2 linked regions of the Homo sapiens genome follow. The protein of the gene in region 1 purifies or fractionates together with the protein of each later gene. This does not show direct contact. Each region holds a gene or a part of one and is shown in the gene's direction. Other genes may lie near its edges. The genes, in order: CKAP2 and KIF22.

The links.
Region 2: the proteins of CKAP2 (region 1) and KIF22 purify together in Homo sapiens (affinity purification with mass spectrometry; 2 studies listed by BioGRID and IntAct, with this or other methods). This does not show direct contact.

Annotation. Positions count from the first base shown.
Region 1 is NC_000013.11:52,450,615-52,458,494, forward strand, and holds the start of CKAP2 (cytoskeleton-associated protein 2), read left to right. Parts: upstream 1-4,863; 5' UTR 4,864-4,942; coding exon 4,943-5,012; intron 5,013-5,373; exon of another isoform or gene 5,374-5,565; intron 5,566-5,908; coding exon 5,909-5,993; intron 5,994-7,880. UniProt on the Homo sapiens protein: Possesses microtubule stabilizing properties. Involved in regulating aneuploidy, cell cycling, and cell death in a p53/TP53-dependent manner.
Region 2 is NC_000016.10:29,793,555-29,801,077, forward strand, and holds part of KIF22 (kinesin-like protein KIF22), read left to right. Parts: intron 1-3,338; coding exon 3,339-3,534; intron 3,535-4,819; coding exon 4,820-4,947; intron 4,948-5,038; coding exon 5,039-5,193; intron 5,194-5,420; coding exon 5,421-5,630; intron 5,631-5,709; coding exon 5,710-5,940; intron 5,941-6,073; coding exon 6,074-6,227; intron 6,228-6,358; coding exon 6,359-6,494; intron 6,495-6,619; coding exon of another isoform or gene 6,620-6,668; exon of another isoform or gene 6,669-7,248; intron 7,249-7,523. UniProt on the Homo sapiens protein: Kinesin family member that is involved in spindle formation and the movements of chromosomes during mitosis and meiosis. Binds to microtubules and to DNA. Plays a role in congression of laterally attached chromosomes in NDC80-depleted cells.

The DNA of each region.
Region 1 (7,880 bases):
GGCCCTCCGAGGCCGCGAGCAGCGCGCCAGGCAGCCTGCGGCGCCCCCTAGCGTCGGACGGGACGGAAGCGAGTCGGGGCGGGTGAGGGACGGAGGGAGCGGCCTGGCAGCGAGCGGGCGCGGCTGCGAGGTGCGCCCGGGGACGTGGAGACGTGCGTGGAGCGCCCCCTGGCGGTCCATTAGCCGCCGGCCTTTCAGAACCCTTGATCAGCAGGCGGTCCACCCCATTCTAAATTCAGAGCTTACAGGGACGCGAGGGAGCCCCGACCACAGCTTGGACTTGCTTATTGTGCATTATGCCTGCATGTTTGTGGCAGTTTTCTTGTCAGTGCCCAGAATGTTGCTACATTCGCTAATGATTGTAAATAATCATAACCCCTCTCTTTCAAATGAATATTTATGGCACGCATTGTTTCTGTACAGCTGCAGTCAGTACTACCTGTGCTGCTCTTTTTTTCCCTTTAAGATTATATTGTAACACAAAGGATAAATGCTTGAGGTAACGGATACCTCATTTACCCTGATGTGATTATTATACAGTGTATGCCTGTATCAAAATATCCCATATACCCCAGAAATATATACACCTATGTACCCACACAAATTAATTTTTTTTTAACTGGGGGAAACAGATTTTATTTAACCGGGCTTGATGCGCGCGCCTGTATTCCCAGCTGCTTCCGAAGCTGAGGCGGGAGGATTGCTTGAACCCAGGAGTTTGACACCAGTGGGCGACATAGAAAGACCCTTTCCCCCTCCACCCCAACTCCCCCACGCCACTCCACTCCCCCACCCCCAGGCTCAGAAAAAAAAGATTATTTTTATTTAGGCATTTTCAATATTAATACAGACCTCATGCGTGAATTTACATTTCAATATGTAGTTCCTCTATAATTTAGCTGTTTGTTGGTCTGCGCAAAGCCATCCATGGCCGCTGCTCTCACCCACCAGGCGGCCTCGTGCCCCTAGCCATTTCATTTTTGTATTTTGCTTTATAAATGGAACACCTGGCCGGGCGCGGTGGCTCACGTTTGTAATCCCAGCACTTTGGGAGGACAAGGCGGGCGGATCACAAGTCAGGAGTTCGAGACCAGCCTGGCTAACATAGAGAAACCCTGTCTCTACTAAAAATACAAAAAATTAGCCCGGCGTGGTGGCGGGTGCCTGTAATCCCAGCTACTCGGGAAGCTGAGGCAAGAGAATCGCTTGAACCCTGGAGGTAGAGGTTGCAGTGAGCCGAGATCGCACCATTGCACTCCAGTCTGAGCGACAGAACGAGACTCTGCTTCAAAAATAATAATAATAAATAATAAATAAATAAATAAATGGAGCAGCTTATAGATGTCCTTCTACAATTGATACATATTTTTCTCTTTAGGATTATTTTCTTACAGTGTCTTCCTAAAATAGAATGACTGCTTTAAAGGTTGTGAACACATTTTAGAGAGCCTACCACTTATTGGGGTCTTAACTAAGGCTGCGTGCCCACGTGGGCAGAGGGGCACAGGGGCAGAGGGACAGAGGGCAGGCTTGCTCTCTGCCCCCAGGGCTCCACATTTCCCCCAGTCGTGGAGTCAGTGGTCTGTGGCTAGGCATTAAAAGAAAGGAAAGGCTCTTTCCAATGAGTATAAGCCATCTCTCCCCCGAAATGAATTGCTACTTTTACCGTGTTCCAAAATCCTGTGTGTATTTTGGTCTATTTCTAAACAGTGTCTTCTGTATTTCATATCTTTCAATTTCCATCATGACCATATACCCAATAACCAAAAGTTCTTTGAAAACATTTGATTTGCTGTAATATGCTATCAATATATATCACAATTTACCATCATTGCCTGATTTTTGAGCATTTGATTGTTTACCAACTTTTTAGTCTTTTTTAATTGAAAGTAATGTGACCTAAGCATCCTAATCAGATGTGGAACTGTGCAGTTATGCCTGGGCTTTGCAATTATCAACATGTTAGGCAGTGAGGACATTTGCAAGGTATGTTTTCTGCCCTTGAGGGATGTACAGTCTGTAGGACACAAATAGAAGCCTGGCATATGATAGCTGCTGGGATAGACAACCGTATAAGGGTTTCCTGTATCCAGGCTGGAGCAAGGAGAAACGTCATGTGGCTTATATATGGCAATAAATGAATAGACAAAAGGTTTTAATTTTTATGAAGTTCAGTGTATTTTTTTCTTTCATAGTTCATGGAATTTGCCTATTTAAGAAATCTTTTTTCCACAAACCAGATATTGATACTGATTATGAAATCTTTGCCTAACACAAAGTCACTAAGATTTTCTCCTATAATTTCTTCTAGAAGCTTCATAGTTTTGGTTCTTACATTTAGGTCTATGCTTTTTTTTTTTGAGACAGAGTCTCACTCTGCCGCCCAGGCTGGAGTGCAATGGCACAATCTCGGCTCACTGCAACCACTGACTCCTGGGTTCAAGCGATTCTCCTGCCTCAGCCTCCCGAGTAGCTGGGATTACAGGTGCCTGCCACCACGCCTGGCTAACTTTTGTATATTTTGTAGAGACAGGGTTTCACCATGTTGGCAAAGCTGGTCTTGAACTCCTGACCTCAGGTGATCCACCCGCCTTGGCCTCCCAAAGTGCTGGGATTACGGGCATGAGCCACCACGCCCAGCCATCCCCAGGATGTTTTTGCCAGGACCTCCCACCTTCTGAATCAGATGGTTCCTTTCAGTCCCAATCCTACTGGACCTCTGTAGTGCCCAACACTGTGGTCCATTACCTCTTTCTTCAGCTTCTCTCTTCCCCAGACTTTGTGACCCCATTGTGTCCCCATTGTCCTCCTAACTTTCAGATTGTCCTTCCCTGTTCTCTCACAGGCACTTTACCTTCTTCACATGACCACAGGAGGAACGACTAACACTAATTAATCATCAGTACTCCAGGTGCCTGCAGTTTCATGGTCAGCTGTGTTGGCAAAGAACTGTTCTGAAAGGAAATCTTTTTTGTTTTGTTTTTTTTGTTTGTTTTTTGGATCTTTTAGAAAAAGGTCTGCTTTCTCTGCAATAATTGTGTAGCAGTAATATTAAAAAGTGTCTCAAAAATAGACATATCATTGGAGTGGGTGAGTCTGGAGATTAGAGGAGAATTGCCATTTTGAAAAACCTAGCAGTTTGGCAGGTTTTCCTATTCATCTCAGCCTACTGAGATCTCCATGGTATCCTTTGAGTCAATTTCTTTTTTTACCATGCCCACTTATAAAAAATTATTGAGGTTCACATAACATAAAATTAATCATTTTAAAGTGAACAACTCAATGGCATTAATACATTTACAATGTCACCCAACCACTACCTCTAATTCCAAAACATTTCACTTACTTCAAGGTAATGAAACCCTTGTCCATTAAACTGTCTCCCAATTCTCCCCCTACCCTCAGCCTCTGGCAACTACTATTCTGAGTTATTTCACTATGGATGTATCTATTTTAGATCTTTCATATAAATGGAATCATACCATATGTAACTTTTCATATATTACTTCTTTTACTTAGCATAATGTTTTGGAGGTTTTTGAGTCACTTATTAACGCTGTATTTTGTTCTCACTTAATAGAAATCCCTGGTTGCCCCACCTGTCTGATGAAACTTTAGTAAATAATCAACAATAATGACAGACGTATTTAAACAGCAAGTTATATCTTAAGGATGGTGATGGACAATGTTAAACTAAAACTGGGACATTTCATCAAGTAAAAAACTACACAAAATCTCAAACCAAATTCCTCATTAGCAAGACGCTACCATAAGATGTCTGAAGAAAAAAGCAGGCAGAAGTGGGAAAAACTGACCACAGCCGAGGGCCAGCTGTGGAGGCCCTCAGACCTGGGAAGGGTAAACGGGGAAATCACATCCTCCCGTCTGTGTGCCCGGAGCACCTAAAACCTGGCTGAAAGAGTCCAGTCCAGCCTTACTGCAGTGATCAGGCAAGAAATGTAAACCCAGTGCTTGAAACCAGGCAGGTGCAGTCCAGACTCGCCCTCACTTCCCCACTGCCACTCTTAAAACCTTCTAGCCCTGACTTGTTTCGTTCTGTCATGTGGATTGAGTGTTTGTGTGGGTTTTATGAAGGTGGTATTTTTAGATGAGAAAAACGAAGATTATGGCGGCACACTTAACCACACAAACACAAAACGTCTGTAACAAATGCTATTTTATCTTCAAAGGAGAATTATATATAACCTTGAGGAGGGGATGAGGTTTATCTTCATTTTTTTCTGTTTCTCCTCCTCTCCTCCCTTTTTTGCATTTGATAATTGCTTAGAATAAAGGTATGGAAAGTAGATCCCAATTTCAGTTCCCCTTCACACGCTGTGCAAACGTGGACAAACAACCTCTGAACCTGTCACCTCTCAGTGGAAAAAGTGGTGATAACGTCCCACCTCAGAATTGATGCTCAAAATGAAGCAGTATTTGTGAAACGAAAATACACACGCTCGTGGTACGCCAGATCGGTGTTTACGTCCTCGTCAGTGAACGCGTCGATGTTTAATAAGAAGGGCAGCCAATCAACACTTTTCTTGTCTTTTTCTCGTCTGCCTTCCTCCAAGGACTGTGAGGGTCTCAAGATGTGTCCCATCTCGGTTGTTTGTCAACCTAGTCCTGCTATGTCGTGGGGACTGAGCAGGCCGACTCCTCCCCCATCGCACGTCCAGGATGAAGAGCGCTGTTTAGGTTTGAAACCTGCAGACTCAGTCCCAACCGAACTGGGCAGACACCAGACCGGCCCCGGCAACTGCAGTCCAGGCTCCGCCTCCCTACGCCCATTGGCTTATTCAATTCACGCAGGAACCAATGGGCGGAGACGGCAGCCGCGCCGTCTGACGGCTTAGCCGCGGTGCAGACTGCGGCGGCGGTGGTCTGAGGAAGTTCTATCTTGGCGCTAAAGCGGAGACGCATCCCCCGACCCGAGGCTACGATGAGCACACCGGCCGTGCCCCAGGACCTGCAGCTGCCCCCGAGTCAGAGGGCGCAGTCCGCATTCAAAGGTGAAGGCCGCGGTGGCGGTGGCGGTGGCGGTGGCGGTGGCGGTGGCGGGCGCGGGCCCGGCGGTCGGGGCTCGGGGCCGCGCTGGCGCGCTTCACCTCTCCCCCGCTCTGTGAGATCCCTGAACGCGGCGTCGGCCTCGCCCTGCCTCATTCTTGGCCTTGTGGAACGGATCATAAAAACAGGAACCGCTGCGTGGTGTTACTGTGCGGTCGCTGCTGGCTGGGATGGGCCCTCCTAAGAAGGAATCCGTTAGGCGAGGGGAAACGCGCGGGCCTCAGGCCGGGGTCGGTGTCGGAGACCCTGGGTCCGCTTGGGGGCGGGGCTGCACAGGTTCAGGGACCGACTGCGCCTGCGCTGGGTCCTCCGCCTCTTAGGTCCCTAGCGAATTTCTGCAGGGCTGGGGTCGCATCATGTGTTATTTCCAATTTCACAGCTTCTCCTTCGACTTTATGGAAACCGAGGGTTGGTTGGGTCTTCAAAACTAATATTGTTATTCCCTTATTCTACACACGGGAAAGCAGAAGAAAGTAATTCTCATCTAACCCAGTTCTGGTAAATTAGAACTTTCGAGTCTAGTGCCTCACTTCTACCATTTAGTTTCTTAAAGCTTGGCTAGCAGGAGCTGTATGTAGAAAATGATGTTCTCCAGATTTTTCACAGGGAGTAGAGAATGTGATTCTTATGCAGAGGGGTTTTGGGGACCTGTTGTGGTAACAGTCTCTTCTAAGGTGATTTCTCAAAGGCAATATTGAATTGGAGAATTTTCTGTTATATAGATGTGACCTCAGGTGGAACCAGCTTTGGAAGTAAACTCTTCATTTAGTCAACAAGATTTATTTGCCGTTATCGATGTTTTAACTAATATTGACTTGTAGCTCTTACCTTTGTTATCTAGAGCAAAGAAGACAAAAACTCAAGGAACATCTGTTGAGAAGAAAAACGCTTTTTGCATACAAGCAGGAAAATGAGATGTTATCCAGGTAAGGTCAAGTTTATTTCTTTTCACTTCTGTAAAATTGTATCAGATCTGTCCAATGAAAATGTAAAGTAAGCCATATCTGTAATTTTAAATTTTCTAGTAGCCACATTTAGAAAAACTGCTTACATATTATTTTACGTCTTTTTGTGGTACAACGTCTTTAAAATCTGGTGTCTATTTTACAGTTACAGGACATTTCCATTTGGTCTATCCACATTTCAAGCACTCAGTAGCCACATTGGCTAGTGGCTACTTTATTGGATGGTGCAGCATTAGATCATCGTTTTATTAATTTTTTTTTTTTTGAGACAGAGTCTCACTCTGTTGCCAGGTTGGAGTGCAGTAGCGTGATCTTGGCTCACTGCAGCCTCCACCTTCTGGGTTCAAGTGAATCTCCTGCCTCAGCTTCCCAAATACCTGGGACTGACTACAGGCAAGTGCCACCATTCCCTGCTAATTTTTGTATTTTAAACAGAGACCGGGTTTCACTATGTTGGCCGGGCTGGTCTTGGACTCCTGACCTTGAGATCCGCCCACCTCAGCCTCTGAAAGTGCTGTGATTACAAGGATGAGCCACCGCGCCCGGCCTAGATTATCGTTTTCTACGTAAATTAATTCACAGTCTAAGAGAAAAAAACAATTATAAAGCAAAGTATGTGCATAGACTAGATTATCAACTTACTGTTTACACCACACAAAGGTCAGTCTTTCTATTATTTAGCAAAGCTTTTTACTCAGTGTATGGGGGAGTTCATCAGGGAAGGGTTGGGTGGCCCTCCCAAATGCTTAGAGATTACTAGTTGTAGTCTCAACCCTCCACAGAAATATCTTTATTATTTTGTTAAAATATCTTAGATAGTACATAGCTGTAGCAAAAACAAAAACCCATGAAAGTAGATGAAGCAGAAAGGCAAAAGGTCCCCTCACTCTCTAGGGATAACCAGTAATAACATCCTTACAGGCTTAGGCTGGGTGCTGTGGCTTACACCTGTAATCCCAGCACTTTAGGAGGCTGAGGTGGGCAGATCACGAGGTCAGGAGATCAAGACCAGCCTGGCTAACACAGTGAAACCCCGTCTCTACTAAAAATACAAAAAATTAGCCAGGCATGGTGGTGGGTGCTTGTAATCCCAGCTACTGGGGAGGCTGAGGCAGGAGAATCGCTTGAACCTGGGAGATGGAGGTTGCAGTGAGCCGAGATCGTGCCATTGCACTCCAGCCTGGGTGACAGAGCGAGACTCCGTCTCAAAAAAAAAAAAAATTGTCTCAGGTAAACAAAATTGTATATACCACCCACACACATATTCAGAGAGTGGAAATGATAACGCAAATGGGATAAAAATTTTAACAATAGGTGGATCCTGGGTAAAGAGTGTACAGATATTCTTTGACCTGTTTATATTTTTGCAACTTTGTGTAAGTTTGGCATTCTAAAATTTTAAAAATAATTTCTAACTTTATATTAATAAGTTGCTTTAGTTTGGAATAAACAGTTTATCCTTCACAAATAAATCTTTTATTTCTTTGTTTAAGACAAAAAGGTGATCCTAGGTTTTTTATTTGAATAAGTAAATGAATGGTGATAACCGTATACTGAAATAGGAAGCCTGAAGGAGGAGCTGGGGAATTAGGAGTTCTGTTTTGACTATGTTTGAGGTACCAACCAGACATCCAAGCAGATATGCCAAATAATTGTGTGTCTGAAGTTCAGGGGAGGGGTTGGGGCTGGAAGCATAAACTCAGGAATTGATTAGTATACAGATGATATTTACTTAAAAACCTTAGGATGGAATGAAATTACTAGGGAATAAGTAGAGATAATATGGATTCAGACAGTGACTCTCAACCACTTATTTAAATAAAGAATCCAACAAGGTCAGGGGTTTAT
Region 2 (7,523 bases), on another chromosome or scaffold:
CCTGCCTATGAAATGAATCTGAGTGGTCTCAGCTCGGGGCAACTTTGTCCCTCACAGGACATTTGGAGATGTCTGGAGAGATTTTTAGTTGTTACAACTTGAGGGTGAGGGTGGAGAATGCTACTGGCATCTAGTAAGCATATGCTAACAGTCTAAATGCACAGGACAGCCCCACAACGGAATTAGCCAGCCCGAAATGTCAGTAGTGCTGAAGTTGAGAAATGCTGGTCTAGAGAAAGGATAGACGGATCCTAGGATGAGGAGTGAACAGAAAACTAGGTAAGACAACCAGGAAGGTGGGGGGCATGGAAATGAAGGGAAAAGTGTGTTTCCCAAGAGTGTCGCATACTTCTGGGAGGTCCAACAGGATTGAGGCTGAGTATGCCTACTGGATCTAGCACTAGGGAAGTCATGGGTGACCCTGCTGAATAGTGAGGGCAGAAGCAAGTTGCAGGGATGGAGGAGTGGGTAGCAAGAGAAAGGGTGTAATAATAACAGCTAAGGACTGAGCAGTTGCTGCCAGGCACTGTGCTAAACATTGTATGTACATTATTACTTTGAATCCTCACATTCTTATGAGATGCAAAGATGAAGGGGCTAAGGAGGCTGAGGAGGGTTCATATAAAGCACTTTGGAGTTAGATCTTCATTTGAAGCTGTCAGTCACTAGCTGTTGACCCTGGGTCAGTCAGCTAACCCCTCTATACTGAGGTTTCCTCATCTGGAAAATGGGAGACGGACATTAAAAAGCACTTACTGGCCTTTCACCAAATACCAGATAATGTTCTAAGCACTTTTACATGAATCACCTTAATTACTCTCCTAACAACCTAACAAAGAGGTATTTTTATTCCCATTTTGCAGGTAAGGAAATTGAGGCACTGGGATGGAAAATAATTTCCCTAGGTTACTTAGCTAGCTGTAAATGGCAGAGCTGGGATTTCAACCCAGGCCATTTTACCTTGAATGATGAACCTACCTACTATGTGCTAGTCACTGTGCTGCCACTTTATCTGGCACTTATTTCAATTATCTTTTTTTTTTCTGAGACACAGTCTTGCTCTGTCACCCAGGCTGGAGTGCAGTGGCGCAATCTCTGCTCACTGCAACCTCCACTTCCCGCATTCAAGCAATTCTTGTGCCTCAGCCTCCCAAGTAGCTGGGATTACAGGCGTCCACCACCATACCTGACTAATTTTTGTATTTTTAGTAGAGGCAGGGTTTCACCACCACGCTGGTCTCGAACTCCTGACCTCAGGTGATCTGCCCACCTTGGCCTCCCAAAGCGCTGGGATTACAGGCATGAACCACTGCGCCCGGCCAAATTCTCAAAAAGCCCAAGGCCCACCCCCAACCTTATTTTACAGACAAGGAAACCAAGGTCCAAGGTCACAAGCTAATAAATGTCAGAGCTGGAATTGAAGTCCACTTCTGTCTGACCAGAGTCTACACTCTACCTCATTACTGACTTCCCCTTCCCCTTAGATTGATCACTGCGCTTCCTTAAGTGCTTCTACATCTGCCATCTTTCTGTTCTCCCAAAACATCCTGTGAAAGCAGGCAGAGGAAGGTCCTGCACATATTTTTGACAAGTCAGTGCACCTCAGTTTTCTATCTGCACACATGCATCTGCAGGTTTTTACCTGCTTGCTCCTGACTTTCAGGATTGCCATGAGGAACAAATGAGAACTAGATGTCCAAGCGCTTTGCTACCATAACGTGAGAAATGGTATTAGTAGCCCCATTTATCAGATGATGGAATGGAGGTTCAGTTTTTGAAACAGCCCGTCTGCTTATGGGCATGCCTTACTTAGGTGTAAGATTCTTTGTAGGGGTCATCTGTCTGCCTTTTCGTCTTGCTGTTTCTGTGTTGGCTACGTATACCAGCCAGCCTTTTGCCTTCTGCGAGGCCTATGGCTCCTAGCAACCAGCTGCTACCACCAGCAAGGAAGGGAAAGAGCTGCCAGGAGCTTTCCCAGTTGGTACATAATAAGGAAGCAATACAGCATCCTATTAAAAGCAGATTTTTAGAGGGGAAGAGATCTAGGTTTGAATTCCACTATGAGCTACAGTATGTTATCCTCCAACGTAAAATAGAGTAATACTCTCCTTAGATATTTTCAGCTCATTTAACCCCCACAAAAATAGAGGGCTTTTCTTTTTTTAAGTTTTATCTTCATTGTGTTTTCTGATGATAAAAATAATTCAGTTGCCAATTCTAAAACAAAACAAAACAAAAAAAACTTAATCATCTGAAGCAAATTCAGGGTTAAGTTTACATGAGAGAAGAATTGCATGTCGGTGGTTTTTGCAGAACCCACATAATTCCCCATCAAGAGAAGATCATCATTAACAGTTTGCAGGGGTGGGTGGGTCTGTGAGTATACATACGTCTCAATACATATTAGAAACCCCAGTTAAGAAATGGAGGTACAGGCTGGGCAGGGTGGCTCACACCTATAATCCTAGCACTTTGGGAGGCCAAGGCAGGCAGATCACTTGAGGTCAGGAATTTGAGACCAGCCTGGCCAACATGGTGAAACCCTGTTTCTACTGAAGATACAAAAACTAGCCAGGAGTGGTGTTGGGGACCTGTAATCCCAGCTACTCGAGAGGCTGAGGTGGGAGGATCGCTTGAACCTGGGAGGTGGAGGTTGCAGTGAGCTGAGATCATGCCACTGCACTCCAGCCTGGGTGACAGAGCAAGACTGTCTCAAAAAAAAAAAAAAAAACACACACACACACACACACAGAAAATTCTGGCAGTTCGCTCTCTGGTTTAGGTTTCGGTCAGATGTCAACCCTTTTAATCCTTAGAACAACCCTGTGAGGTGCTGGTCTACTTCACCCTTGGCAATTCAAAACATGTCCTGGGCCAGGCATGGTGGCTCCTGCCTATAATTCCAGCACTTTGGGAGGCTGAGGTAGGAGGATCGCTGGAGCCCAGGAGTTGAAGACAAGCCTGGGTAACCTAGTGAGACTCCATCCCTCTCTCTCTCTTTTTTTTTTTTAAGTGCCCAGCATCACCTGGGAGCTTGTTAGAAATGCAAAATCTCGGGCATCACCCCAGGGAGACGGAGACCAAATCCACATTTTCACAAGATCCTCCAGGTTATTTGTGTATACATTACAGTCTGAGAAGCCTGCTATACACCTGCTGCACTTGCTTGTAGAGCAGGGAAGGCACTGAGGCCAAGCTTAGGGGTGTCCACAACATGACCAGGGCAGAATGAGCTTCTCCAACATGAGCTGTGGCCCCCAGCCCGCCCAGCAAAGTTGGTCCCTGCTTCTTCTGCTACCACCATACTTCATGTCTAAAAGTGATCTTCTCTCCTCCAGGAGCTGGTCGCTGTCGGCTAAGCAAGATTGGAGCTACTCGTCGTCCACCTCCAGCTCGCGTAAGGGTGGCTGTGCGACTGCGGCCATTTGTGGATGGAACAGCGGGAGCAAGTGATCCCCCCTGTGTGCGGGGCATGGACAGCTGCTCTCTAGAGATTGCTAACTGGAGGAACCACCAGGAGACTCTCAAATACCAGTAAGGTTCAGGCCACTCCTCTTCCCTCATGCCATCACCTCCCTCTCCTAGGCCTGCCCACGTTCCCCTGCCTCCCCAGGATCCTTGCTCCCTCCTTAGCACCGCTTTGTTCCCTGAGCCTTCACTGTTCACTTAGGAAATGTTGACAGGTGCCCCCATGATGGGCCCTCTCTGGGATACTGTAGGGAGAGATGAGAGGTTGAATCAAACATACATTACTGTGCACAGAGAGGGAGGAGCAATGAGGGTGAGCAGGTGAGCCCCAAGTAGAGGCTGGGGGACATATCAGGAGGGTTGGCGGAACACAGACCTGCCAGCCAGCCTACCCAAGCTGCAGCTGGGTAGTGTCAGAGAAGACCACCCAGATTTGGGGACAGAACTCAGAAGGGCAGCTACTTTATAATCCTACTGGGGATTTAAAGTTCAAACTCCTTGGCCTGTTTTTCTAGGCGGGGGCTGGCAAACCATGGCCTGCAGGTCAAATCTGATCAGGAGTAAGATTTTCAGTAAATAAAATTTTATCGTTTATTTACATATTGTCTATAGCTGCTTTCTGACTACAGTGGCAGAGTTGAGTAGTTGTAAAAGGAACACATGGCCCACAAAGCCTAAAATATGTACAATCTGCCTTTTTACAGAAGTTTGCTAGCTCCCATACTAGGCCGTTAACAATTTGGGCTTCAGTTTCTTTCCAGCCTCATTCCCTCAATATATATTAAACTCCCTGCTGTGGCCTAAGCTGCACTTCTCCACCAGAACGCAGTGGATAGGTGATTGGTATGTAGAGTCTAGTTCAGTCATAAGCAGCATCCTCTATTTTCCCCATTATGGTGTAAAATACAATGTTCTACACATGTAGCCATTTGAAAAAGACTGGGAAGCCTTGCTTTTTTGCTATTCTTGATTCTCAGAATTTCTTTCTTTGGTCAAAATCTTCCTTCCTTGAGCAGAATCAGTTACTCCTTTGAGAGTGTGTTCTTATCTTCGTTTCCTAAATCACAGCAAAGTGTGGATATCTATCCTACCAGACTGAAAAACTCCAAGAGCAGGGATATCAGATCTATCTCTGTATTCCTAACACCAATAGAGAGATGAGGATGGAGTAGGTGTTAGGTGGATGCTTTTTAAGGTCTTTGTACAAGAAAGGGGATAGAGACGTTCTCTTAAATCCAAGGTCCAGATGAGAGTAGAATCCCTTACCCACCCCCACCCCACTCCACCCCTTACACACACACACACACACACACACACACACACACGCTAATTTCTTTCTTTCTTCCTGCAGGTTTGATGCCTTCTATGGGGAGAGGAGTACTCAGCAGGACATCTATGCAGGTTCAGTGCAGCCCATCCTAAGGCACTTGCTGGAAGGGCAGAATGCCAGTGTGCTTGCCTATGGACCCACAGGAGCTGGTGAGGGAGCCAGAAAAGAAACAGCTATGGGTCAGAAAGGGCTGGGGAAACGGAGAGGAAAACCTCACAGTTTTCTCCACTCTCTTCCCAGGGAAGACGCACACAATGCTGGGCAGCCCAGAGCAACCTGGGGTGATCCCGCGGGCTCTCATGGACCTCCTGCAGCTCACAAGGGAGGAGGGTGCCGAGGGCCGGCCATGGGCCCTTTCTGTCACCATGTCTTACCTAGAGATCTACCAGGAGAAGGTGAGGCCCCGTGCTGGTTGGGAGAGGAGCAACAAAGGGTCAAAGTAAGACCTGGTTCTAGAACATGAAGCTCTGCTGTAGCAGGGAGGTAAGGTGAGACCTAGAAAGACAGAGACTGGGGTAGCAGATGGTACAACTCCGAGAATAGAACAGAGAAAGGAAACTGATCCCCAGGAAGAAACAGCCTCTCTATGGAGAATTGCCCTTCCCCTTCACTGCTTACACAGGTATTAGACCTCCTGGACCCTGCTTCGGGAGACCTGGTAATCCGAGAAGACTGCCGGGGGAATATCCTGATTCCGGGTCTCTCCCAGAAGCCCATCAGTAGCTTTGCTGATTTTGAGCGGCACTTCCTGCCAGCCAGTCGAAATCGGACTGTAGGAGCCACCCGGCTCAACCAGCGCTCCTCCCGCAGTCATGCTGTGCTCCTGGTCAAGGTGAGGCCGCAGACAGGGGCGAGGACCTGGGAAGCCCAGGAGCCTGAGCTAAGCACGAGACCTTTGTTCTTACCCCCAGGTGGACCAGCGGGAACGTTTGGCCCCATTTCGCCAGCGAGAGGGAAAACTCTACCTGATTGACTTGGCTGGGTCAGAGGACAACCGGCGCACAGGCAACAAGGGCCTTCGGCTAAAAGAGAGTGGAGCCATCAACACCTCCCTGTTTGTCCTGGGCAAAGTGGTAGATGCGCTGAATCAGGGCCTCCCTCGTGTACCTTATCGGGACAGCAAGCTCACTCGCCTATTGCAGGTCAGGCCCACCTGTCTCAGGGAAGAAGGGGCTGCAGAAGGAGGTTCTCAGGCCTGCTGTGGGGTGGGGAATAGCAGTTGAGGCATAGGAAGGCTGGGCTTCTGACCCACCCACTGCCTGGTCTCACCCTCAGGACTCTCTGGGTGGCTCAGCCCACAGTATCCTTATTGCCAACATTGCCCCTGAGAGACGCTTCTACCTAGACACAGTCTCCGCACTCAACTTTGCTGCCAGGTCCAAGGAGGTGATCAATCGGCCTTTTACCAATGAGAGCCTGCAGCCTCATGGTGAGAACTGGGGGAGGCAGGAGTGGAAACGCTGGGTCTGGAAATTAGGGAGTTTGTTGAAACCACCAAGCATCAGCACAGAGGCTGACCACCCCCAATCCCTCTCTCCACCCCATCCTCCAATCATCTAGCCTTGGGACCTGTTAAGCTGTCTCAGAAAGAATTGCTTGGTCCACCAGAGGCAAAGAGAGCCCGAGGCCCTGAGGAAGAGGAGATCGGGAGCCCTGAGCCCATGGCAGCTCCAGCCTCTGCCTCCCAGAAACTCAGGTGAGCAGTGGGGCCTTGGGTGTATCCCCTTCCTGATGTATGGCTTAGCAGCAGAGCTGCAATGCCCGTCAGATCCTTGAGCAGAGAGCTGTGATCTTGTTCCTCTCCCATTAAATTCACCCTAGGCCGGATGCGGTGGCTCACTCCTGTAACCCCAGCACTTTGGGAGACTGAGGTTGGGTGGATCACCTGAGGTCAGGAGTTCGAGACCAGCCTGGCCAACATGGTGAAACCTCATCTCTACTAAAAAATACAAAAAGTAGCCGGATGTGGTGGCATGTGCCTGTAATCCCAGCTACTTGGGAGGCTGAGGCAGGAGAATCCCTTGAACCCAGGAAGCAGAGGTTGCAGTGAGCTGAGATTGTGGCCATTGCACTCCAGCCTGGGCGACACAGCAAGACTCCGTCTCAAAGTAAATAAGTGAATTCAACCCTGGCTAGGCACGGTGGCTCACGCCTGTAATCCCAGCACTTTGGGAGGCCAAGACGGGTGGATCACCTGAGGTCAGGAGTTCAAGACCAGCCTGGCCAACATGGTGAAACCCCATCTCTACTAAAAATACAAAAATTAGCCAGGCATGGTAGTGGGCACCTGTAATCCCAGCTACTCAGGAGGCTGAGGCAGGAAGAATTGCTTGAATCTGGGAGGTGAAAGTTGCAGTGAGCCAAGATCATGCCACTGCACTCCAGCCTAGGTGACAGAGCAAGACTGCATCTCAATAAATAAATAAGTAAATAAATAAATTCCCCCCAAATTCTACTCCATTGAATCACTAAAGTCTAAGATTAATCTCTCCTCAGTGCTGCTGCCTTGGGGACCTAAGGAGGCCTCCTCCTGGGGATCCTTTCCATTTTCCAACCCCTTTAGCCTTCAGCAAAACTTCTCACTTTGGGACAGCTGTTTCAAGGATGAGCATTTTTGCTTCTGGTTCAAGGAGTGATCTGGATCAGATCTTTCAGATCCATGAGAGCAAAGCAAAGGAGACTTGGAAGAGCTGTCCTGCTGAGACCATCTGGTCTGTGTGTCAGT